Homo sapiens: one gene and its partners. The protein of the gene in region 7 binds, or shares a complex with, the protein of the main gene of each other region. Each region holds a gene or a part of one and is shown on either strand. Other genes may lie near its edges.

Region 1 (3,500 bases), on a different chromosome or scaffold from region 7:
TAAGCACTCCTCCCATCTCACTAGGGTCGGGCCTCCTTTCCCCAGGATGCACACAGCACACAGGGATTGAACTGTTCAGGCCCCTTCTCACAGCTGCCATACAACTCCGCTCTCACCTGTGTGACATACACCATGTCAGCCATCAGTGCAAAGCCCTCCAATTTCAGCTGTGAGATGAAGGCTTGCAGAAGAACGTTGATCTGTAAAGAAGCAAAATCAGCCAGCAGGAGACCAATCACTGAACAGTCCAAGAAAGGGAATTACATTTCTGCTCTGAGCATCCAGGCCAGGTGAGATTTGCTACAGGTCTTGATTTACAAATACTAAATAATTGTTATTTCATATAAAAAGAACATGCGAGAAGGCTGCAAAAACTAGGAGAACTGAGCAGGAAACCACACATGAACCCAAATTCAAGGTTCATCTTTTAGAAGATTATGAAAACCACTTAATCCTCATCCTTATCAAAGCAAAGAGGAGAGGAGCTCACCTTAGCACTGGGTTCCTCAATGCTCTCCTTTACAGGGATAGGCACCCTCTCCAGCAACTTCTGCAGCTCCAGCTTCTCCTCCTGCCACAAGGAGGAAAAGGTCAAGGGAAAGCCTTGTGGCCGAGGAGGGACACCATTCAGTGACTTGGTGAGCACCAACTCCCCGCCCCATCATGCTGCATAGGCTCACCTCTCTCACTGTGATGTTCTTGAACTCAGAGGACAATGAGAAGACCCTGAAAAGCTCAATCTCACTCAGGGTGGGCTTCAGCAGCTGGTTGTAAGTCTGCACTGTATCATTGGTGATGTAGTAGTGGCTGGCTATACGGCCCAGTTCTGTCACCTGGAGAGAAGGTAGACTCAATCCAGTGCTGACTATTAATGAGCTCCAACCTCTAACTGTGGACCATAAGTTACTGTCCTATAGGTTTTTTGTACTTTTTTTTTGGTAAAGTATATGACCCAATGTCATTATTGTCCTAATAGGACAACTGGATGAAGTCACAGCAGTACAAGTGCCAGGCCCAGGCACATGAAGAAAAACAGCAGAATAAGCTGACCCATAGTGAAATGATGTCTGCACGGACAAGACAGCTGAATTATCCACCTCAAGTTATGGGAAAAGCTACCCATTTTTCTGCTGTTCTAAGCAACAGGTGATTAGATAGGCAGTACTCACATCAAGAGAGCAATCTGAAAAATTTTTTCCTGGGCCAACAACTTTTGCTGAGACCTTTGCCTCAAAACCCTCACCCCACGCACCTGGAAGTTGCCCGTCTTCTTGTCGTACTTGACCAGATTGTTCTTGTCCAGCATCAGGGCAGCTGTATGAACCAGATCTAGTCGGCGCTGGTCCAGCAGGGGATCTCCCTTGAGGTCATCATGAGAGATGCCATAGAGGGTTGGGGATCGCAGCATTCGGATATAGAGGTAGGCATAGCCCAGCCAGTTCACCGCATCCTACAAGACACAGCTCATGGTTCTTAGCATGGAGAAACTCTTGATGTCCAAATGACAGGCTCCCATGAATTGCTTAGAAATTAATTCCCAACTACAAGGATGCATATTACATCGTATTCTGAATGTTTTTAGCATTTCATTATTAAAAAGATCTAAGCGTCTTCTAAGATCTTGGTAACAAGGGGAACTATCTGCCAGACCCAAGATGTGGGTGCAGGGATGGAAGGCCTCGGACGCTGCTGGCCCGCAGCACAATAGGGACCGACCCACTCCTGGTGCCTTGGTGTCTGCGGGGAAAGCATGAAGCACAACAAGCAGTCCTCCCCTACCTTGGCATTCTGGACATTTCCTAGCACGATTTCTGCATTGAGCATGTCAGGAAGCTTTGAAACCATCTGGCTTTCAATAGGAAGTTGTTGATTGAGGAGGGACAGGTAGTACTGTAGCTCCCCATGAGATGTGATGAGTATGCCTTCACCCTTGGTGTCATACTGGGGTCTTCCGGCACGTCCCAGCATCTAGATCAGAGACAGCGAACCAAGAATGCTATGTCAAGAGAATGTCTGAATTTTGATGCAGGTATCTACATTACAGAACTAGACCTCTGATCTGCTAGCTTTCCAGCATCCCTGCATTTCAGGCAAGGATACTGATCCCTGCTGAGAATAAACTCAAAAGGCTCTGTACCTGCAGAATGTCCAGTGCTCCCAGTTCTGTCCAACGCCCCTTCTCTGGACTGTACACCTGGGTGCCTTTGATGATGACTGTATGTGCAGGGAGATTCACACCCCAAGCTAGAGTTGCTGTGGAAACTAAAACCTACAGAGGCAAAACAAGGTAATGAGGAGAACAGATGCCATCACCAGGGGTTAATATCCCTGGCTTCTCTAGGCAGTTGGCCTCAGAGCTTCTCTCAGGACTAGCCGGTAGGGCGCGTGGGGTCCCAGTACTTGTCAATGTGACACCAGAATAAAGAGGAAAGGTTTCCTTGGGTTCCTCATCTATTCAGTAATGAACATTTCAAGGTTCCAGAGGCACAAGTGCAGACTTGTATTAAACAACCTTAAAGTTACTAGAAAAGGTAAAACAGAGCCTATCCGGAAAGAGGGAACGACAAGGGCACGCGTGCCCCCATGAGACACTGTTTGGAGCTATCTGAAGTCACCAAAGTGCTTGCTTCACTATGCTTCTCAGACTATCCTAAACTCAAGCAAGGTGGGAAGAGTTGGGAGAGTAGCATAAGGTTCTATTTATTGTGTCCACCACAACCCTCTGACCTGGGCTAGCTGGGCCAGAAGCAATAAAGTACCAGGAGCAAACATGGCACAAACTTGACATTGCCCATCTTCTGAAGTATGTCCCACCTGCTCCTCCAAACGCTTTGCACCCCCTCACCTGAATATGTTTATCAGCAAAAAGATCCTCCACGAGTGTTCGGTCAACCCTGGTCATGCCTGCGTGATGAATAGCAAAGCCATAAGGCAGAAGATCCTTCAGCTCTAGGTTCTGTGGAACAAAGAACCGGGGATGAGGCGAGCCTTCCTGTAGGACTCATCCAAGGACTAAGGAAATCTCCTCCCATGAGACCCTGCCCCTTAACTATTATGTGGAATAGTAATAATCACATCCAGACAATCAACCTTAACCCATGGGAAACAACAATACCACAGTACAGTCCTAGAGGAGCTGTCTGGGGCCTGAGATGGACACAGCTGCCAGGTAGGAATGAGAGAACCCAGCTGGCCCCTCCTCACCTTGCACTGCTCAGCTTCTGTTCGCAGGACTTCTGTGGAGGCTGAGCCCTCCCTCAGAAACAGACCCAGAGTGTCCTTTTCTAGGCACATGTCCCGGATGGCCCTGGCTGTCTTTCCAGTCTCCTTCCGGGAGTGGACAAACACCAGCACCTAAGGAGAAGCCACAGTTTGCTACAGTCACGAGATACTCACAGCCCCAGGGCACCTGCAGCAGGAAGCAGAAGTTGCACCATCACCACCAGAAGCCAAGGTCCTGGAGAGGGGCAAGGGCAGGAATGTGTGCAGGCTCAGAGGAA
Region 2 (3,075 bases), on a different chromosome or scaffold from region 7:
AAATTACAAAAATTAGCCGGGCATGATGGCAGGTGCCTGTAAGCCCAGCTACTTGGGAGGCTGAGGGGGGAGAATTGCTTGAACCCAGGAGGTGAAGGTTGTAGTGAGCCGAGATGGTGCCATTGCACTCCAGCCTGGGCAACAGAGCGAGACTCTGTCTCAAAACAAAACAACAAAAAAAGTTTTCAAATAAATTCCAAGAAGAATTTCTATGTAAGAAATGAAATAAAACAGATACTAAATAAAAATATGCCACAACTGAAAATGAACGCAGGACACAGGCAATTAAACAAAAATGCAGGCTGAATGCAGTGGCTTTACACCTGTAATCCCTGCACTTTCGGAGGCTTAGGTGGGAGGATCGCTTGAGCCCAGGAGTTTTGAGACCAGCCTGGGCAACATAGTGAGACCCTGTCTCTACGAACAATTTTTTTTAATTAGCCAGGTGTGGTGGTGCTTGGTTGTGGTCCTAGCTACTCAGGAGGCTGAGGTGGGAGGATTGCTGGAGCCCAGGAAGTTAAAGCTCTAGTGAGCTGTGATTGCGCCACTGCACCCTAACTATAGCAACAGAGTGAGACTCAAAAAAAAACCAACCAAACAAAAACCAAATGTAATAAATACGATCTAACCTCACTGACCTCACTGATAAATAATAAAGAAGCCAAGGATTAACTATACCTGCTAACCAAGCAGATTAATAAATTCAAAGCAGGAACCCTCTCATCATCTTTGCTATCCTAAAAAAAAAAAAAGAAAAATTTAAATATTGTCTGTTCCTATTACTTTTGAAATAAATTTTCTATTAAGATGTAAAACACGAAACATGAAAACTTTATTATATGACAGTAATCATCATGTGGAAATAGGAGCCCTCAAAGAAAAAGCAGAGAACTGTAGAGTTAATGATTCCTTGAGAAACATCTAAGACTATCTTTTAAATAAAGATTCTGAATAGGGAAAAAAAAATAAAGAGGGATCTAAGGGGGATAACTTGGGGGAAATTTTTCCCTGGTTCCTACTAAAGGAACAATAAGAATCCTGTGTCTTAACTGTACAGTGATGAATATATATATATATATTCATATATATTATATATGTGTCTTAACTGTAGTGAATATGTATTCATATATAATAAATATATATTAATATACATATATGAATAAATATATTTATCACTGTAGTCAAGACACAGGATTCTTATTGTTCCTCTATATAATGCATACAATATATGTGAGGATATATATAGAATATATATGAATATATATAATATATATTAATCACTGTACAGTCAAGACACAGGATTCTTACTGTTCTTATATATATTCATTACTGAATTATATAAAGATATATATATAAAGATATATATATATACACACACACACACACACATATATATACACACACACACACACACACACACACCAGGTGCAGTAGCTCATGCCTGTAATCCCAGCACTTTGGGAGGCTGAGGCAGGTGGATCACTTGAAGTCAGCAGTTTGAGACCAGTCTGGCCAACATGGTGAAACCCTGTCTCTACTAAAAATACAAAAATTAGCCAGGCATGGTGGCGGGCACCTGTAATCTCAGCTACTCTGGAGGCTAAGGCAGGAGAATTGCTTGAACCTGGGAAGCGGAGGTTGCAGTGAGCCGAGACCGCACCATTGCACTCCAGCCTCGGTGACAGAGCGAGACTCCATCTCACAATAAAAGAAAAAAAAAAAAAAAAAAAAAAGGCTGAAGCTACAGCAGCCATCTTGGATCATAAGATGAGCATGAGGATGAAAGCCACATATGACAAAACTCAAAGGTGTGGGTGGGTTACTGCCATCTTAGTAAAAATCTAATTTTTTTACCTACTTCTTTTTTGAGACAGAGTCTTGCTCTGTTGCCCAGGCAGGAGTGCAGTGGTGCAATCTCAGCTCACTGCAACCTCCGCCTCCTGGGTTCGAACGATTCTCCTGCCTCAGCCTCCTGAGTAGCTGGGATGACAAGCACCCACCACCACACCCAGCTAAATTTTGTATTTTTAGTAGAGACGGGGTTTCACCATGTGGGCCAGGTTGGTCTCAAACTCCTGACCTCAGGTGAGCCACCCGCCTCAGCCTCCCAAAGTGCTGGGATTATAGGTGTGAGCCACCACGCCCGGCTCAGACTTCTTTATCTCAGAAAACATTTCCATATTATTTAAGCTACTATTATTTTGGGCTTTACAAATCTAATTGCCACCAATAAAATATTCCATGTGTTTTCCTATTTCACTGAACTCCTTCTTTACCACCATATAAATTGGTGGGTGCTTTTAATTTTAAACAGTAAGTTGCAACTTACCACTAAGAGCCTCACTTCAGAGCACCTTCTTGCAAGCTGCCGAATCAGTGAATGAGCCTCAGGTAACAAAGGCTTTTCAAGACAAGCCAATAAAGCATAAAGCCATCTTCCCTAAAAAAAAATTCAAAAAATTAATATTTAGACAAATACTGAACCAGAAGTTTATTTTTTAAATGTCCAATGTTATGCCTGATTATCTGCTATGAATAAATTCATAGAACATTTAACTATATTATGTTTGGGTATAGACAAGAAAGCCTCATTTGGAGAGCCAGGTGTTATCTCTTGTATCCTATAATTACAGACACAGGACATTGGATACCTCAAAATATTCCCTGATCTCCAAAGAGTTTGTTTCAGATATTCTTATGATAGGAAGTTCTCATTTGTAAGCAGAACACTACATTAAGATGAATATAAATACTGGAAAAAATTAAGATACATTTTTTTCTTTGTTCTGTATGGACAGATATAGAAATCATTTTATAATTGTATAATTTTGTCCTCTGGGGACATACAAAGAAACTATACTACAGATGAAATAATCTTTTGACACTTTTATAAATACTTTGACAGGCTCAATGTATCCCCACTCCCTTTTAAAATGGGGTTTTCAGCTACAAAATGAATACATATTTGATGCAGAAAAACTGTGAAGAATACCACAAGCACAAGAAAAAACCTGCAGTCCCAACATTCCAGATCAAACTTTGATTCACTTTAAAAATGTTCTTGTTTTTCCTATT
Region 3 (3,500 bases), on a different chromosome or scaffold from region 7:
GTGCTGGGATTACAAGCATGAGCCACCGCGCCCAGCCCATAAATATATTTTTACTTGTAAATGTATCTACTCCCTCCTTCAGTCATGCTCCTTGTTTTATATTTACATTTTCCCATGATAATCCTATACATTAAAATTGAATAAGTGCCCCACTTCGTGGCCCATATACTAAACATCTTTTTTTCATTTTTTTATATTTTAAAATTTGAATGAAATTTTTAAAATTGAATGAAATTTTATGTTTTCTGGCCTATATGGAAGAAATTAAAAACTGATTTGACTGCATGGCTTAATCTCGTATTCCACTAAAATGGAATTTTTTTTTAATTCATATCGTTTGAAGTTTCAAATGTGCATTTATTATTCTAAAATATACTTAAATGTTGAGGACTACCCTGAACATTTATGCTTGATGCTTTAATATTAAATAAAAGAACACTACTTATTTCAAATATAAAATACCTATTGAATTGGATATGATTTGATTACTGTTTGCTGTCTTTACAACTTAGTTTTGGAAATAACCAAACATAGGCAAGTCTTTGTTTTTCTCTTGTGACTATAAAATCCAGTCATTGAAAATTAGGTCAATGAGACCAGATGTGGTAGCTCATGCCTGTGTAATCCCAGCGGCACTTTGGGAGGCTGAGGGGGAGTATATTTTTCGAGGCCAGGAATTCAGGACCAGCCTGGGCAACATAATGAGACTCCCATCTCTTAAAAAAAAAAAAAAAAAGAAAGAAATTTAGGTCAATGAAACAACGTAGTATTGAACAATAAGAATGTAATTCACATTAGTATACTCTACTTAATGTAAATTAATATAGTCTAAATATGTTTCATTTTTATTGCCTTTCCTCTTCCCAAATTACTTTGCTTCCTAGAATGTCTAATTTAGGTAACCCTTTACGCCCCCACTCTTTTTTTCCCCTGAGACAGTTTCGCTCTATTGCCCAAGCTGGAGTGCAGTGGCGCAATCATGGCTCACTGCAGCCTCAACGTGGCAGGCTCCAGTGATTCTCCGACCTCAGCCTCCCAAGTAGCTGGAACCATAGGCATGTGCCACCACCCCCAGCTAATTTTTGTATTTTTGGTAGAGATGGGGTTTCACCATGTTGCCCAGGCTGGTCTCAACTCCTGAGCTCAAGCAGTCCACCCGCCTCAGCCCCCTAAAGTGCTGGGATTACAGGCGTGAGCTACCTCGCCCTACTCCCTCACTCTTTACAGCAATACATTATTTTTACTATTTTAGATTTCATTATTCCCATTGTATAAATTTTAGCAAATTATCTTAACTATACCTATTTACTTGTTTATGCTTAAATTTTTTTAATTGGTTATATAATCTTTACCCTTTTCCTTTTTCAGATTTATGGACAAGAAGTTATCATGTAAGTTTGTTGTTGTTTTGGGGTTTTTTTTAATTATTTAATTGCTTTTTACATGTGTCTTAGCAATGTTTGGAGCAACTTTATAAAAATTTAAAGCAGCCAGGCGCGATGGCTCACGGCTGTAATCCCAGCACTTTGGGAGGCCGAGGCAGGCGGATCGTGAGATCAGGAGATCAAGACCATCCTGGCTAACACGGTGAAACCCCGTCTCTACTAAAAATACAAAAAAAAATTAGCCGGGTGCAGTGGCGGGCGCCTGTAGTCCCAGTTACTCGGGAGGCTGAGTCAGGAGAATGGCATGAACCCAGGAGGCGGAGTTTGCAGTGAGCCAAGATGGCGGTACTGCACTCCAGCCTGGGCTATAGAGCTAGACTCCGTCTCAAAAAAAAAAAATTTAAAGCACACAGGACCTCTAATTCACATCCGTTAGTTAAGCAGATTACTTAATCCTAACTAGACAATTTTATTTACCTAATTTCTGATAATTAATTTAACAGCACTTCAGACTTTATCTTATGTAAGCCCTTCCTCACTTTGGCAAAATTAACAGGATTTATCAACCTTTTTTCTTTAAACAAGCTACAAAGGACTTAGACAAGGAACAGTTATCTTGTTTCTTGGGAATATGTAGGAATAACATTTGTTCAATTTATCTAAAAATCTGACCCACACAGTACTTGAAATATATGTAGGGGAAAAAACCATGAGCGTTAGAGGTAAGCAGCCTTCAGCTTGAATCTCACTTCTGTCGTACAGTAGCTGTATAACCATGAACCCAGTTACTTAAAAGCTCGGGCACGGTGGTTTACACCTATAATCCCCCAGCACTTTGGGAGGCCAAAGCGGGAGGATCCCTTGAGCCCAGGAGTTCGAGACCAGCCTGGGCAACATAGGGAGCCCCCATCTTTATAAAAATTTTAAAAAAGCTCTGAAGTTTAGTTCTGTCCTATAAAGTAAGGATAATACTACTTTTTAGGATTCTTATAAATTAAAATGTGGAAGTAAATACAAAAATGTTTAACCCAGTTCTTGTCATACAGTAAGGATAGTGGGTTTCAGACATCTCAAATACTTGTGTTTTATCCCACCTGATTTTTAGTGAATGCTTGGTAGCTAATGGAATGTTTTTCTAAAACTTCTTTTTCTCTTTTTAATAGTGAAATTAAATGGTGGCAGACATGTCCAAGGAATATTGCGGGGATTTGATCCCTTTATGAACCTTGTGATAGATGAATGTGTGGAGATGGCGACTAGTGGACAACAGAACAATATTGGAATGGTGGTAAGTAAAGATACAAGAGTTCTCTTGGAGATTTCATTTTTCTTTTGGAATGTGTATTAACTTTCCTGGTTAGTAACCCCCAGAAATGGCAAATAACAGGCAAGATTAGACTTTCCATCTCCTTTTTAGTTGCATACGGCAGTTACTCAGCTGTAGTAATATCCTGGTTACCTGTAGGTAAGATCTCAACTATACAGAACCTAAGGTCCTAGCGCTTGAAATAGCTGTTGGAAATCCTTTTTGAGCTTTATTCTGCAATAGAGGCTCATAGTTGGTCCTTCATTAGAGCAGTAGTTCTGAAACCTTAATGTGTATATGAATCCCCAGGGAATCTTCTTAAAATGAAGATTCTACTTCAGTAGGTATGGGGCAGAACTTAACTAAGGTTTTGCATTTCTACTAATGCCTAATGCAGATCTGCCAGTTCACAGGTAACACTTTCTGATTTTACTTGTATACATAGTTAACCTGGATTTTCTGGTTTACCACACCCAAAATTTTAAGGTAGCCAAGGTAAAAGTTACAAGGGATAATCACAATGACAGTTATTCACATGAGAGAAAAAGCAGGAAAAAATAAGCACATACTGAGCCCTCATAGGATTAAACATTCCTACATTCATTGGGCCGTAGTTTTAGTGATTGCTGAAGAAGAGTTTTGATACCCAGACTTTGAGTCCCTCTTTGTCTAACACAGGACAACATACCTAATAAAGCGGTAAGCCCAAAGTTCTTGAAAAAGGTGAACCAAAAAGGACAACTTACTTTTAGCAAATTATTAAGCATAAAGACCTCCAAGGAGTGGTAAGAGTTGCTAATTATTAGCCT
Region 4 (3,500 bases), on a different chromosome or scaffold from region 7:
TCTACCAAGCGCAAGTAATCAAACCATGCATCATAATTGTGTGGATTCGCCTAGAAAGACAACCAGTTTAATAAATAAAAAACAAAACCAAGAGCTGCACTTGCCAGGTTAAGCAAGCTGAAAAAAGGCATCAGGCTGACTTTCTATATTTTAGCACCTTTTCTTCTAAATGTTACATGTTCTTTCATTTTAAAAACACCATCCCTGAGACTGCATAAATAGAAAAGAAACAGGAATACAGAGGATAGATTACTGGCCAGGTGTCCCACAGCAAGGACTCCTTCATCTATAGCCATCACTCTCACGACAGTCAATAATTAGATGCCTATTCTTGCCAATGCATTTGCTTAAATATGTGACTATGTATCATTATGTCTGTAACAACAGAATCGTATCATGCTCACAATTGTTAAACTTGCCTTTCCAATTAATAGCAATTCATCTTTAACATATCTTGCTAACCTACCACCACATTTAATAACAGACTTAGTCCTTTGCTTGGAGGTATCTTAATTAACTTGACTAAGGAAGAGTATTTTTAAATACACAACAGAATACTGAAGGAAAATGACACTCTCTTTGAATTGAAATCAAAATAGTACATTACAGAAAAAGAGATGCCGATGGAACCCTGTCTAGCATACATCTTTTGTTCAGGCAGTTAAGCTCAAAGGTGATGTGCAAAACAGGTTTTTGGACCAATCTCTGACTCTTCCACCTTCTTCCAACAATGAGCTCGAATGGATTCCACATTTCTTTTGCTCCAGTTCTACATACAGTCAACAATCAACAAAACGACTTACAACATGTAAGTGGCAGAGCAAATCCAAGTGTTGTTTGCTTGCCTTTTCTATCAGCCTTGTTTATTCCTACTTGTCTGAAATAGCTGCCAATTGGATCACGGGCACATCATCACGAGAGTAATCACTAGTAGTGCTACTTGCTATTATTCATTTTAGTGTTGCTAGTATTGATGAGCACATCTTGGGTTATCTGCAGAGTTGACCATCCACACCAGTGCTCACCTTCACTTCTTCTTCGTACTGGAATCTCCGTTTGCTCACAATGATATCTTCAATACCCCGCCTATCACCAAACTTCTTCTCAAAGATGGTATAATTTTTAAAGAGTTCTTGGGCATCTTGTTTTGAAATTCTGTCCAGGGCATACTTGTAAATCACTCGTACCCTTTCAAACTAAATGCAGACAGGATGATTACCTTCTATAACACAATATTCTCATGCCAGTCACAACTAGGAGAGTAAATATAACAAAATATTACTTATAAGTTAGATTTTGAGGCCTCATAATATCCAGAGTAAGATGCTTTTCTCCCTCTTGTTGAAGGTTATCTCTGTCAGGATGGACCGGTACTCTGCTTTGAGCTCCATATTTAATACTGTCTACCTAACACTGCCAACTGGATGTCTACTGCACATCTCAAACAGGTCCAAAACTGAGCTTCTGTTTCCTCCCCACTCAAACTGGGACTCTCCCCATCTTCCCAATTTTAGTAGGCAAGGCCTAACCTACAGTCACTTGCTCAAGCCAAAACCTTCAGGTGATCCTCAATTCCTCTTTTTTCCTCATACTCCATATTCACTCTTGCAACATGCCCTACCATTTCAATCTCTTCCACACAGCCATTTGCTTCTCCCCAGCCCCCAGCCATCAAACTCCACTGTTCACCTGGCCCACTTCAAAAGTCTCCCCACTGGTCTCCCCTGGTTCCACTTTTGCCATCTACCCTCATACATTCTCCATGAATTAGCCAGAGGCTCTCCTTAAAATATAAATCATATCCAATCACTGTCCCGCTTAAAACCTTTCAATGCTTCCCACTGGCCCGAACAGAATCTGAACTCCCTAGCATGGTCCGTGCAAGACCTTATATAGGTTGAGTATCTCTTGTCTGAAGCATTTGGTATCAGAAGTGTTTTGGATTTGGGATGTTTCCCCAGTTTGGGAATATTTGCATTATACTTACTGGTTCAGCATCCCTAATCCAAAAACCCGAAGTCTGAAATGTTCCAATGAACATTTCCTTCGAGTGTCATGTCAGCACTCAACAAGTTTCACATTTTGAGTTTTGGATTTTCAGACTGGGAATGCTCAAACCTGTATTTGGATGGATCTCAATTCTGTATTATTTGAACTCCCTTTTTTTTTAAGAAATGGGGTCCTGCTCTGTCACCCAGGCTAGAGTGCAATGGCACGAACATAGCTCATTGTAGTCTCAAACTCCTAGGCTCAAGTGATACTCCTGCCTCAGCTTCCCAAGTAGCTGGGACTGTAGGTGTGCACCACTATGCCCACTCAATTTTTTTTTTTAGAGACAGGGTCTCACTATGTTGCCCAGGCTGGTCTCAAACTCCTGGCCTCAAGTGATCCTTCTGCCTCATCTTCTCAATATTTGAGCTATTTTCATAGGTACAAGGGAAAAAAAGAACTCTCTTATTTGTAGGGCAATCTCTGTTTCCATTCTAAATGTTTTCTGTTCTAGGGCTTTAAGCTTTTTGTTTCCCATATTTATTATCGGTTAAGTCCTTTACTTAGGATGCCAAAAGACTAGTTCTCAGTTTACGGGCATTCAGACTAAAAGGCTTAATTTTCAAACAAAGCACAATAAAATTAAGACAGTTATAATACAATCTATAATCAGCTCCCATCTGTAGCTTAGTCACATATATATGCTGTTCTCTGTGAGAAGCTGTGTTTTTGTATTTTGAAAACATCTTTCCAGGGATATGTCAGTAAGAAAAAATGGAAATGAACTCACCATGCACAAAATGTAATCTTTGCTAAGCTGTTTTACAGTATAATGAAGTTAGGTATACTTACCTCTTTCTGATTTTCTTCAAACTTGGCAAAGGCAACATAAAGGTGCTCATCCATATGTTCATCTCCAAAGAATTCCACAGCTCTCTCATACACTTTCCGTGCATGGGCAAAATAAGCATGTTTTTCTTCAAAGCGGGCATACTTGATCCAGTTCTTAACATCAGGGTGCACGAGGACAAGTGCAAGGGAATTAAGGAAATCCCAGGCAAAACAGCATGGCTTAAAAAAATAGTAAGTAAGTAAACACCAAAACCATACCAAAGCCTGGAAACTCCAAAAATTCAAACTACAACTCTAGGGGAACAAAACACATACAAAAGTGTAGAATTAAACAGTGGCTTCTGTGAGAGCAGGGCCACGCCTGTTCATCTCTATTTTCCTCCAGTGCTTAGTTAAGATTTTAGTGGTGGGTATAAACTCGAGTTGGAAGCAAAGAAAAATCTCAACCCAGGTTACCAACCATGTGATCTTGGATAAGTCACTGAACTTAGACGTCTAAGTCTCAGCTGTTTCATTTGTAAACAGGGAAAAATAATGCCAGCCTCACTGGATTACTGCCAGCTTTAAATGAGAAAATGTATGTAAAGCCCTTAGCACAGTTTCTAGCCAAAAGAACATGGCACCGTAAGCGGTCAATAATGGTCTGGTCATTAAATAGC
Region 5 (3,150 bases), on a different chromosome or scaffold from region 7:
CAAAGTGATGGGGTTATAGGTGTGAGCAACTGCACCCAGCCTTTATTTTGTTTTTAATTACAGCTTTTAGTTCCAGAAACTCACTTTTTGTTTTTGTTGTTTGTTTGTTTGTTTTGAGAGGGAGTCTCACTCTCATGCTCAGACTGGAGTGCAGTGGCGCAATCTCAGCTCACCACAACCTCCACCTTCCGGGTTCAAGCAATTCTTCTGTCTCAGCCTCCCGAGTAGCTGGGACTACAGGCACGCGCCATCATGCCTGGCTAATTTTTGTGTTTTTAGTAGAGGCGGGGTTTCACCATGTTGGCCAGGCTGGTCTTGAACTCCTGACCTTGTGATCTGCCCACCTTGGCCTCCCAAAGTGCTGGGATTACAGGCATGAGCCACCGCGCCTGGCCCACTTTTTGTTTTAATTAAATGCAAATGTAAAGGTGTTTTCTCAGTGTGAACAGACTTTAACACCGGGACGTGTGTGTGCTGCTGTGCAACTAGACATGAGAGTTTCCGATGTGGGAAGCAAAAATGGGTGGCGGAGACAAGAGGAACTTTCAAAGTGTGAATTGTGTGTACTTGTTTCCAAATGCGGTTCACAGGAACAGTTTGGTGGCATCCTCTGCGCCTACCGTGGGAGGATGTTTAACTCAGACTCTGGCTTCTCTCTCCAGCTCCTGCTTCACATTTGCCATGACTTGACCCTGGCAGTGCTGAGCCAACAGATGGCCTCCTGGGACGAGGCTGTGCAGGCGCTCCTTCGGGCGGTGGTCCGGAGCTATGACTCAGGGAGCTTCACCATCATGCAGGAAGTGTACTCAGCCTTTCTCCCTGACGGTAAGTGACTTCCTGCTGCCTGAGGCACACCCTTTAATGGACAACATCACCACCATTAGTGGTGTGGCACTGGGAGTACCTAGATTCTTAAAAGATGGAGATTGGCCAGCTGTGTCATTTTAGTAGAAAGTTTGGATTCTCTTACCGAAGCTTTTAAGAACAACTATACTGTTTCCTTTACCTGGCCCTACCCTCTTACAGCCTCCTGTCCACTTTCCACAAAGTTTAAGGGAGAGAGAAATAGGAATGTAGTTACATGTTAGTAAGAACAGAAAAGAACAGCAAAAAAGATAGACATTCCTTGGGCTGCATAGTCAGTCACTGAACTAAATCATTGTGATTTTTCAGAGAGACAGTGTGATCTGTTGTCGTGGCCCCAGAGCCTTCAGTAGTACAAATGGAATACTCTATCATGCTTTGAATGACTCCTAGGATGTAGTAATGAGAACACTGTCGCAAGCCAGGAAATGTTTAGCCTCCAGTTGGCTCTTGGTGGAAAGGCATGTGGCCCGGTGGATCACACTGTTGTCCTTTTTCCTGGGGTCTGCTTCTTGGTTGATAAGAAATAGAACATAAGGGCAGGAAGCCACATTTCTGGCAACTAGAGAAATGCATGACCCAGTATCTTTTTCCTCTTTTCCTAGGCTGTGACCACCTAAGAGACAAGTTGGGGGACCATCAATCCCCTGCCACACCAGCTTTCAAAAGTTTGGAGGCCTTTTTTCTTTATGGGCGTCTGTATGAATTCTGGTGGTCTCTCTCCAGACCTTGCCCAAATTCCAGTGTCTGGGTAAGGGCTGGTCACAGAACACTCTCTGTTGAGCCAAGCCAGCAGTTAGACACTGCCAGCACTGAAGAAACGGACCCTGAAACTTCTCAGCCAGAGCCAAACAGGCCTTCAGAACTAGACTTGAGACTCACAGAAGAAGGTGAGCGAATGCTGAGTACTTTTAAGGAGCTCTTTTCAGAAAAGCATGCCAGTCTCCAAAACTCACAGAGAACTGTTGCTGAAGTCCAAGAGACCTTGGCAGAAATGATCCGACAACACCAAAAGAGTCAACTCTGTAAATCCACAGCAAATGGTCCTGATAAGAATGAACCGGAAGTAGAAGCAGAGCAGCCCCTCTGCAGTTCTCAGAGCCAGTGGTAAGTACTGAGGCAAGTACAAGACGGAATGAAAAATGACCCTGCTGGCTAGGAACAGTGGTTCATGCCTATAATCCCAGCACTTTGGGAGGCTGAAGCAGGAGGATCACTTGGCCCAGGAGTTCACCACCAGCCCGGGCAAAAAAGCGAGACCCTGTCTCTACAAAAAAAAAAAAAAAAAAAAAGCCCGGGCACAGTGGATCACGCTTGTAATCCCAGCACTTTGGGAGGCCGAGGTGGGCAGATCACTTGAAGTAAGGAGTTTGAGACCAGCCTGGCCAACATGGTGAAACCCCGTCTCTACTAAAAATTAGCTGGGTATGGTGGCACATGCCTGTAATTCCAGCTACTTGGGGGGCTGAGGCCAGAGAATCGTTTGAACCTGGGCAGCAGAGGTTGCAGTGAGTCAAAATCGCACCAGTGCACTCCAGCCTGGGCAACAGAGGGAGACTTCATCTCAAAAAATACAAATAAAGTAACCAGGTGTGGTGGCATGTACCCTGTAGCTACTTAGGAGGCTGAGGCAGGAGGATCACTTGAGGCCAGGAGCTCAAGTTCAGCCTGGGCTACATATTGAGACCCTGTCTCTAGAAAAATTAATTTTTTTAAATTAGCCAGTAGTGGTGGCATGCACTTGTAGTCCCAGCTACTCAGGAGGCTGAGGTGGGAGGATCACTTAAGCCCAGGAGTTCGAGGCTGTAGTGAGATACGATCATGCCACTCATACCAGCCTGGTTGACAGACCCTGTCTCTACAAAAAAAAAAAAAAAAAATTAAATTTTAAGAAGCCAGGTGACAAAGGAATTTTATTTATAAAATGAGATAAAAGTAACCCAGGCAGGGGCATATGCTCTCAGGGCCTCCTGAGGGCTGTGTCATAGGCAAAAGTTTAAATTTTTAAAAAATATTAAAAATAAAAGGTAAAAGCTACCCAGGCATAACAAAAGATAATCCAATTCAAGGATGGGCAAAGGACTTGAATAGACATTTCTCTAAAAAGCCAGTAAGCACAGGAAATGATGCTCAACATCTCATCATTGGGGAAATGCAAATCAAAACTACAGTGAAGCAGCACTTCATAGCCATTAGGCTACTATCAGAGAAACAGAACAAGTGTTGAGGAGGATGCAGAGACATTGGAACCCTTGTGCCTATTGGTGGGAATGTAAAATGATGCAG
Region 6 (3,500 bases), on a different chromosome or scaffold from region 7:
AAGGCAGACAGATTATCTGAGCCCAGGAGTTTGAGAGCAGCCTGGGCAACATGTGAAACCCTGTCCTACAAAGGACAGAAAAATTAACTGGGTGTGGCAGCACGCGCCTGTAGTCCCAGCTACTCAGGAGGCAGACGTGGGAGGATCACTTGATCCCAGGGAGGTCAAGGCTGCAGTGAGCCAGGATCGCACTACTGATCTCCAGCCTGGGTTGACAGAGTGAGAGTCTCTTTCAGAAAAAAAATTTCGTGAACCCTTTCATCTGCCATCTGATTTCTTTGCTCCCCTTCACATCAGAAGTTTTCCAAAGTCTTACCTAGACACTTTTTCAGTGTCCTTAAGTTCCTTTCCCTCCTTCAGCCACTCTAGTCATGTGTTATCCCCACAACAGCCCTGAAACTGTTCTTGTCGAGATCACAAGTGACCTTTTAGAGTGACTTCAATCTACTGGCTTTAAATTCAAGCTATATGTTATATATATATATATGTAATAATATTATTATATATATATTATAATATTATTATATATATATAACTCCCAAATTTATACCTCTGGCCTGACTTCTCTGAGCTCTAAACGTATATCTAGCAGTTTATCTGACATACCTCATTTAATGTCTAACAGGCCACTTCTTTTTCCTTCCGTCTTCTCATCATAGTAGCACCACTCTCTAATCCACTTGTTCAAGCCTAAAAGCTAGAATTCCTCACTGAGTCCTCCCTTTCCCCTACTTCCCCTATCCATCAGCAAGTTCTTTGGATCTACCTCCAAAACGTAAAATGTAACCTGAAACCACCTGCTTCTGTACATCTCACTGCTATTACCCTTTTCCAAACCACTGTTATTTCTTACTTGGAACTGTAATAACTATTGAACTATCTTCCTGCTTCTCTAGTTTCCCGCAGTTGTCTCATAGTAACGAGAGTGATCCTTTACAAAGTTCCTTTGCTTAAAATCCGCCACTGGTTTTCTTTTTCACATAGAATAAAATTTAAGCCCCCTACCATGTTCTTACAAGGTCCTCCTTAATATGACCCCTCCCACCTCTCCGGCTTCGTATTGTACCACACTGCTCCTCATTCATCATATGCTGTCTTTATTAGTTCTGCCAAGCCCACTCCCATCCAAAGAGATTTGTACTTGCTGCTGTCTCCTAGGAGTCTTCCGTTAGAGCTTACGTATCTGCCTCCTTCTTGCTGTTTGGGTCTCAGCTTCAGAGAAGTTTCCCTAATCAGCATCTAAACTAATCTCTTCTTTCCTTTTCCTCATCTCTGCCTTAGTATCCTGTTAGAATTTTCTCTATAATACTACTATTTGAAAACCTTGCTTGTTTTATTAGATTGTCTGTTTCCTTACTTACTGTTTACCTCTTCTCACTACAATATTATCTGATGAGGGCAAGGGCTTTGCCTATCATGTTCATCTTTGGTATTTAGAACAGTAAATACCATGTAATATTAAGCACTCAGTATATATTTGCTGAATGAATAAATACCTGTTTTCTGATGTCATCCCAAGGATTAGAAATAACAACAATAAAGCCTTAACTACATACAGTGCCTAGCACATAATAGCATCTTTAATGCAGATTCACACTATATATTATTGACTGACTTATTGAGGTCTTTGAGAACCATTCTGTTTTTATTGACTGAGCTATTATTTGTACAGATTTTATGCTTTTATATACTTCCAGTTCCTTTATGCTCTCAAACTTACTCTGATATCATTAAAAAGTAGCTGTAACTCTTGGGTACTCTCTTACTTTGGAAAATGTACTACAGTATTGCTTGGAATCTATGGTACTGTTATTTATAAGATGCATTGTTACTTTAAGAAAAAACTCTGCCAGTTTTAAGATTTCCAAGGTTAGGCCGGGTGCGGTGGCTCACGCCTGTAATCCCAGCACTTTGGGAGGCCGAGGCAGGCGGATCACAAGGTCAGGAGATCGAGACCATCCTGGCTAACATGGTGAAACCCTGTCTCTACTAAAAATACAAAAAAATTAGCCGGGCGTGGTGGCGGTCACCTGTAATCCCAGCTACTCGGGAGGCTGAGGCAGGAGAATGGCATGAACCTACGAGGCAGAGCTTGCAGTGAGCCGAGATTGCGCCACTGCATTCCAGCCTGGGCGACAGAGCGAGACTCCGTCTCAAAAAAAAAAAAAAAAGATTTCCAAGGTTACAATGTGTATTTTTGAATAATAAAATATGGTTTTAAGAAAAAATAGCCTCTGGAAATACATGTCCAAACAAATTGAACTTATTGAAAGGAAGAAGAGTACCTATCTTTTGTGGGGAGTAAAGTGATATTCTCAGCTGGGCGCAGTGGTTCACGCCTGTGATCCCAGCACTTTGGGAGGCCAACGCAGGCGGATCTCCTGAGGTTGGGAGTTCGAGACCAGCCTGACCAACATGGAGAAACCCCATCTCTACTAAAAATACAAAATTAGCCGGGCGTGGTAGCGCATGCCTGTAATCCCAGCTACTTGTGAGGCTGAGACAGGAGAATTGCTTGAACCTGGGAGGCAGAGGTTGCAGTAAGCCAAGATTGCGCCATTGCACTCTAGCCTGGGCGATAGAGTGAGATTCAGTCTCAAAAAAAAAAAAGTGATATTCTCTGTGTTTGGAAAAATTAACCTTTGTAAATGGGCTGTTGTACTATACCCAAGAGAAGACACCAGTTCTAGGACGGTGTTTCGTATCTAGTATATGAGGATCATTACAAAAACTCATTTTGTAAAAATGTTAGGGAAGCACATTTAAATCAGAGTATTATTGCCATTTTAGGGGAAAGTATTTCTTTTTTTCACTCCTGTCACTATAAGATGGCATTTTTATATAGTGGAAGCCCTTTTATCTAAAAGGATTGAGTCAGTTAATTAAAAATGTCAGCTAATGTAAGCAGTCATTAAAAGATACACATACTTTATTTTAAATTAAAGCGCATAACTGTAGATGCATTAATCATTTGGTATTGAAACAAAGCCTTTTGAGCATAAATCGACTGATAAGTGCTTTACATGATTGTCGTCACAAAAATCACAATCAGAATATGTTCAGTTTCTTTAAAGTAGAGCAAAAATTGATGCTTGAGGTGTGGAGTTACTTTCCTAGTGATTTTCCCCCAGTTTTCAACAGTTGTCTTACCCATACCTAATTCAATAGCAATTCATATGATTCCTAGTCATCCTAAAATAGTCACTTAGGTTATATGGAATCAGTCACTCTTTTTGCACCCACATTTCATCAGTTTCCATAATATTTATGTCACACAAATAGAATGACAGATACGACTGATATGAACACGTCAAGAATAAATACTGTACAACTGATTCTTTATAAGTATATATCTCACATGGATGGAGCAGAGCAGAGATGTACAGGCATATCAGACAGTAGCCATCTGGAATAGGCTAAACCCATCAATTGTAGAGGTTGATGGAGGGATGGAGAGCATGGATTAATCCTGTGTGTTGCGTAAGTGGGGTTATTTAAGA
Region 7 (3,500 bases):
ACGGTGAAACCCCGTCTCTACTAAAAATACAAAAAATTAGCCGGGCGTGGTTGCAGGCGCCTGTGGTCCCAGCTACTGGAGAGGCAGAGGCAGGACAATGGTGTGAACCCGGGAAGCGGAGCTTGCAGTGAGCCGAGATCGCGCCACTGCACTCCAGCCTGGGCGACAGAGTGAGAGTCCATCTCAAAAAAAGATTTCGGCTGGGCGCGGTGGTTCCTGCCTGTAATCCCAGCACTTTGGAAGGCCGAGGCGGGTGGATCACTTGAGGTCAGGGGTATGAGACCAGCCTGACCAACAGGATGAAACCCCACCTCTACTAAAAATACAAAATTAGCTGGGTGTGGTGGCACACACCTATAATCCCAGCTACTTGGGAGGCTGAAACAGAAGAATCGCTTGAACCCAGGAGGCAGAGGTTGCAGTGAGCTGAGATCCTGCCACTGCACTCCAGCTTGGCTAACAAGAGCGAAACTCCATCTCAAAAAAAAAAAAAAAAATTTTTTTCAACAAAATTTTAAATAGAAAGTAGACTGGGAACTGTAACATTTAGTAAAGGAAGAATAACTTCTGAAAAATCTAAGATTCAGAAGCGTGGAGTAAGATGATATGAGGCGGGGGGCTTTCAATCATCAATTCCCCGACAGGTAGGTAGGTAGTAAAAAAAAAAATGTAGAATAACCCTAACGACATTAAAGCAAAACATCCTCAGATTTGAAAATACAGCCAGCCTTCAATATCCATGGGTTGCACATCCATGGATTTAACCAACTGAGGATCAAAAATGTAGTTTAGGCCTATGATGGTTGTATCTGTACTAAACACATACAGACTTTTTCTTGTCATTAACGCCTAAACAATACAGTATAACTATCTACAGAGCATTTACATTATACTAGGTATTACAAGTAATCTAGAGATGATTTAAAGGGTACAAAAGGATGTGCACTGAAACACTACTACCATTTTATGAAAAGGGACTTAAGAATCTGTAGATTTTGGTACCCACAGGGGGTTTTTTTAAAGTGGAAAGCAGCATGAGATAAAGGACCGAGAGAGAGATTAAATCATTGTTTTTCAAGCTATGGATTACAATCATATATATATATATATATTTTTTTTTTTTGAGACAAAGTCTCACTCTGTAGCCCAGGCTGGAGTGCAGTGGCGTGATCTTGGCTCACAGCAACCTCCACCTCCCAGGTTCAAGTGATTCGTCTGCCTCAACCTCCCGAGTAACTGGGACTAAAGGCACGCACCACCACGCCTGATTTTTTTTGCATTTTTAGTAGAGAGGGGGTTTCGCCATGTTGACCAGGCTGGTCTGGAACTCCTGGCCTCAGGTGATCTGCCCACCTTGGCCTCCCAAAGTGCTGGGATTACAGGTGTGAGCCACCCTGCCCGACCACATCGATATTTGTTGTTTGGTTTTTTTTTTTTTTGAGACAGTGGCTCTGTCACCCAGGCTGGAGTGCAGTGGTGAGATCTCGGCTCACTGCAACCTCCGCCTACTGGGTTCAAGCGATTCTCCTGCCTCAGCCTCCCGAGTAGCTGGGATTACAGGCACCCGCCACCATGCCCAGCTAAGTTTTATATTTTTAGTAGAGATGAGGCTTCACCATGTTGGCCAGGCTGGTCTTGAACTCCTGACCTCGTGATCCACCCGCCTTGGCCTCCCAAAGTGCTGGGATTATAGGCGTGAGCCACTGCGTCCGGTTGCTCAATGTTTTTAATAGCAACACCAAGAATTACTATACATACTATAGGAAATATTAAACAACAAAGACACTTGTGTTGTTTGCAAATAATATCTATATTATGAATAGTGTGGATTAGGATTAGCATTCACAAAAATGTTTATAATCCTTCAAACTTACCAGCTTCCCTTTTCTTAGATTTCACCTTAGGTTCAACATCCACAAGTAGTGTATCCAGAGGTAAACTGTCTGGTAGAATAAAATACCGAATGTTATTTCCTCGAATACTCAGCGTTTCCAGCTGTACAGGTTCTCTGTTCTTCAGGGTCATTTTCACAGCTTTAAGATGTGTATTCATGCTGACATCCACACCTAAAGAGGAAAATAATTGTGCAGTTATTAGTATGATACAAGTTAAGGCAACTAATTAATCTACTGAGCCACAGTAAATACTGGACTACAAAAGATTACTGTTCTTCTACAAAGTGCAAGTTTTCTATGACACAATTTAGCACATGTGCAACTGGTAAATGGGGGAATGTCAGCAGTGTTTCCTTCCTAGAGATTTTTCCTAGCACACTAATGTTTTGCTTACAGAAGTGAATGCAGCAAGCCATGGAAGAACCCTGACTGGGCTTTAGGCTCACTACTGATGTGACAGGTATTTCTTTCATGTTTCTCCCACTGTCTTTGTAACTTCCTCATAATCCCCATTCCACCAAACTATCCTCACCTTTGTTTCTGCTTCTCTCTGTATATAAGAATTGTTACTGCTTTTGTTAAGATGGATCATGAGGTCAGGAGTTCGAGACCAACCTGGCCAACATGATGAAACCCCGTCTCTACCAAAAATATAAAAAATTAGCTGGGTGTGGTGGCACGCACCCATAACCCCAGCTACTTGGGAGGCTGAGGCAGGAGAATTGCTTCAACCCGGACCCGGGAGGCAGAGGTTGTAGTGACCTGAGATTGTGCCACTGCACTCCAGCCTGGGTAACAGAGTGAGAATCCGTCTAAAAAAAAAATTTACCCGGGCATGGTGGCAGGCACCTGTAGTCCCAGCTACTTGGGAGGCTGAGACAGGAGAATTGCTTGACCCCAGGCGGCGGATGTTGCAGTGAGCTGAGATCGTGCCACTGCACTCCGGCCCAGGTGACAGAGCAAAACTGTTTAAAAAAAAAAAAAAAAAATTACATAATTCAGACAAAAAAAATAAGGATTTGTACTACAATAATGTTCATTAAGCAATAAAAAAATAAACTCTGGCTAGGTAAAAGAGAAGAAAAAAAATGTTATAAAAGCAGTCCAACCTCCGTACCTGTGATTGTTCCATGGACCTGTGTTCCGTTCTTCAATTCAATGGTTACAGTTTCATGACTCAATTTCATCAAAAATCTATAAATAGGAATAAAACCATTTTTACCTGTAACACTTTAAAATCACATTTATTAAGGTGAAAGGGTGAAACAACTCGATGTTGAAAATTTGCTAGATGCTATCTGCATCAATTCCTATCAATAATCTGCATAACAATTTCAGCTTTCCTGAATTATATCCTCAACCTTTATGAAGGAACACAACAATACTAACATAAACTGTCATTTGGACGTTTCTAATTCTCAAACCTGAAATCCAGACATACAAGATCTTAGACTCATTATAAACCATGAAAAAGAAATAGGCCAGGCGTGGTGGCTCACGCCTATAATTCCAGCAGTTTGGGAGGCCAAGGCGGGCGGATCACGAGGTCAGGAGATCGAGATCATCCTGGCTAACATGGTGAAACCCCGTCTCTACTAAAAAATA

What was found.
Region 1: SNRPD1 (region 7) and SNRNP200 share a complex: the UniProt entries of both Homo sapiens proteins name them as parts of the U4/U6-U5 tri-snRNP complex.
Region 2: SNRPD1 (region 7) and GEMIN2 share a complex: the UniProt entries of both Homo sapiens proteins name them as parts of the SMN-Sm complex.
Region 3: SNRPD1 (region 7) and SNRPG share a complex: the UniProt entries of both Homo sapiens proteins name them as parts of the SMN-Sm complex.
Region 4: SNRPD1 (region 7) and CRNKL1 share a complex: the UniProt entries of both Homo sapiens proteins name them as parts of the minor spliceosome.
Region 5: SNRPD1 (region 7) and GEMIN5 share a complex: the UniProt entries of both Homo sapiens proteins name them as parts of the SMN-Sm complex.
Region 6: SNRPD1 (region 7) and CRIPT share a complex: the UniProt entries of both Homo sapiens proteins name them as parts of the minor spliceosome.

The regions. Positions count from the first base shown.
Region 1 is NC_000002.12:96,288,547-96,292,046, forward strand, and holds part of SNRNP200 (U5 small nuclear ribonucleoprotein 200 kDa helicase), read right to left. Parts: intron 3,355-3,500; coding exon 3,205-3,354; intron 2,957-3,204; coding exon 2,846-2,956; intron 2,270-2,845; coding exon 2,138-2,269; intron 1,969-2,137; coding exon 1,780-1,968; intron 1,451-1,779; coding exon 1,253-1,450; intron 834-1,252; coding exon 681-833; intron 572-680; coding exon 491-571; intron 201-490; coding exon 117-200; intron 1-116. UniProt on the Homo sapiens protein: Catalyzes the ATP-dependent unwinding of U4/U6 RNA duplices, an essential step in the assembly of a catalytically active spliceosome. Plays a role in pre-mRNA splicing as a core component of precatalytic, catalytic and postcatalytic spliceosomal complexes.
Region 2 is NC_000014.9:39,131,323-39,134,397, reverse strand, and holds part of GEMIN2 (gem-associated protein 2), read right to left. Parts: intron 2,441-3,075; coding exon 2,330-2,440; intron 738-2,329; coding exon 679-737; intron 1-678. UniProt on the Homo sapiens protein: The SMN complex catalyzes the assembly of small nuclear ribonucleoproteins (snRNPs), the building blocks of the spliceosome, and thereby plays an important role in the splicing of cellular pre-mRNAs.
Region 3 is NC_000002.12:70,287,241-70,290,740, reverse strand, and holds part of SNRPG (small nuclear ribonucleoprotein G), read left to right. Parts: intron 1-1,368; coding exon 1,369-1,391; intron 1,392-2,548; coding exon 2,549-2,673; intron 2,674-3,369; coding exon of another isoform or gene 3,370-3,480; exon of another isoform or gene 3,481-3,500. UniProt on the Homo sapiens protein: Plays a role in pre-mRNA splicing as a core component of the spliceosomal U1, U2, U4 and U5 small nuclear ribonucleoproteins (snRNPs), the building blocks of the spliceosome.
Region 4 is NC_000020.11:20,042,467-20,045,966, forward strand, and holds part of CRNKL1 (crooked neck-like protein 1), read right to left. Parts: intron 3,061-3,500; exon of another isoform or gene 3,021-3,060; coding exon 2,842-3,020; intron 1,197-2,841; coding exon 1,026-1,196; intron 51-1,025; coding exon 1-50. UniProt on the Homo sapiens protein: Involved in pre-mRNA splicing process. As a component of the minor spliceosome, involved in the splicing of U12-type introns in pre-mRNAs.
Region 5 is NC_000005.10:154,890,062-154,893,211, reverse strand, and holds part of GEMIN5 (gem-associated protein 5), read left to right. Parts: intron 1-662; coding exon 663-825; intron 826-1,469; coding exon 1,470-1,971; intron 1,972-3,150. UniProt on the Homo sapiens protein: The SMN complex catalyzes the assembly of small nuclear ribonucleoproteins (snRNPs), the building blocks of the spliceosome, and thereby plays an important role in the splicing of cellular pre-mRNAs.
Region 6 is NC_000002.12:46,620,215-46,623,714, forward strand, and holds part of CRIPT (cysteine-rich PDZ-binding protein), read left to right. Parts: intron 1-3,500. UniProt on the Homo sapiens protein: As a component of the minor spliceosome, involved in the splicing of U12-type introns in pre-mRNAs. Involved in the cytoskeletal anchoring of DLG4 in excitatory synapses.
Region 7 is NC_000018.10:21,622,314-21,625,813, reverse strand, and holds part of SNRPD1 (small nuclear ribonucleoprotein Sm D1), read right to left. Parts: intron 3,090-3,500; coding exon 3,013-3,089; intron 2,067-3,012; coding exon 1,875-2,066; intron 1-1,874. UniProt on the Homo sapiens protein: Plays a role in pre-mRNA splicing as a core component of the spliceosomal U1, U2, U4 and U5 small nuclear ribonucleoproteins (snRNPs), the building blocks of the spliceosome.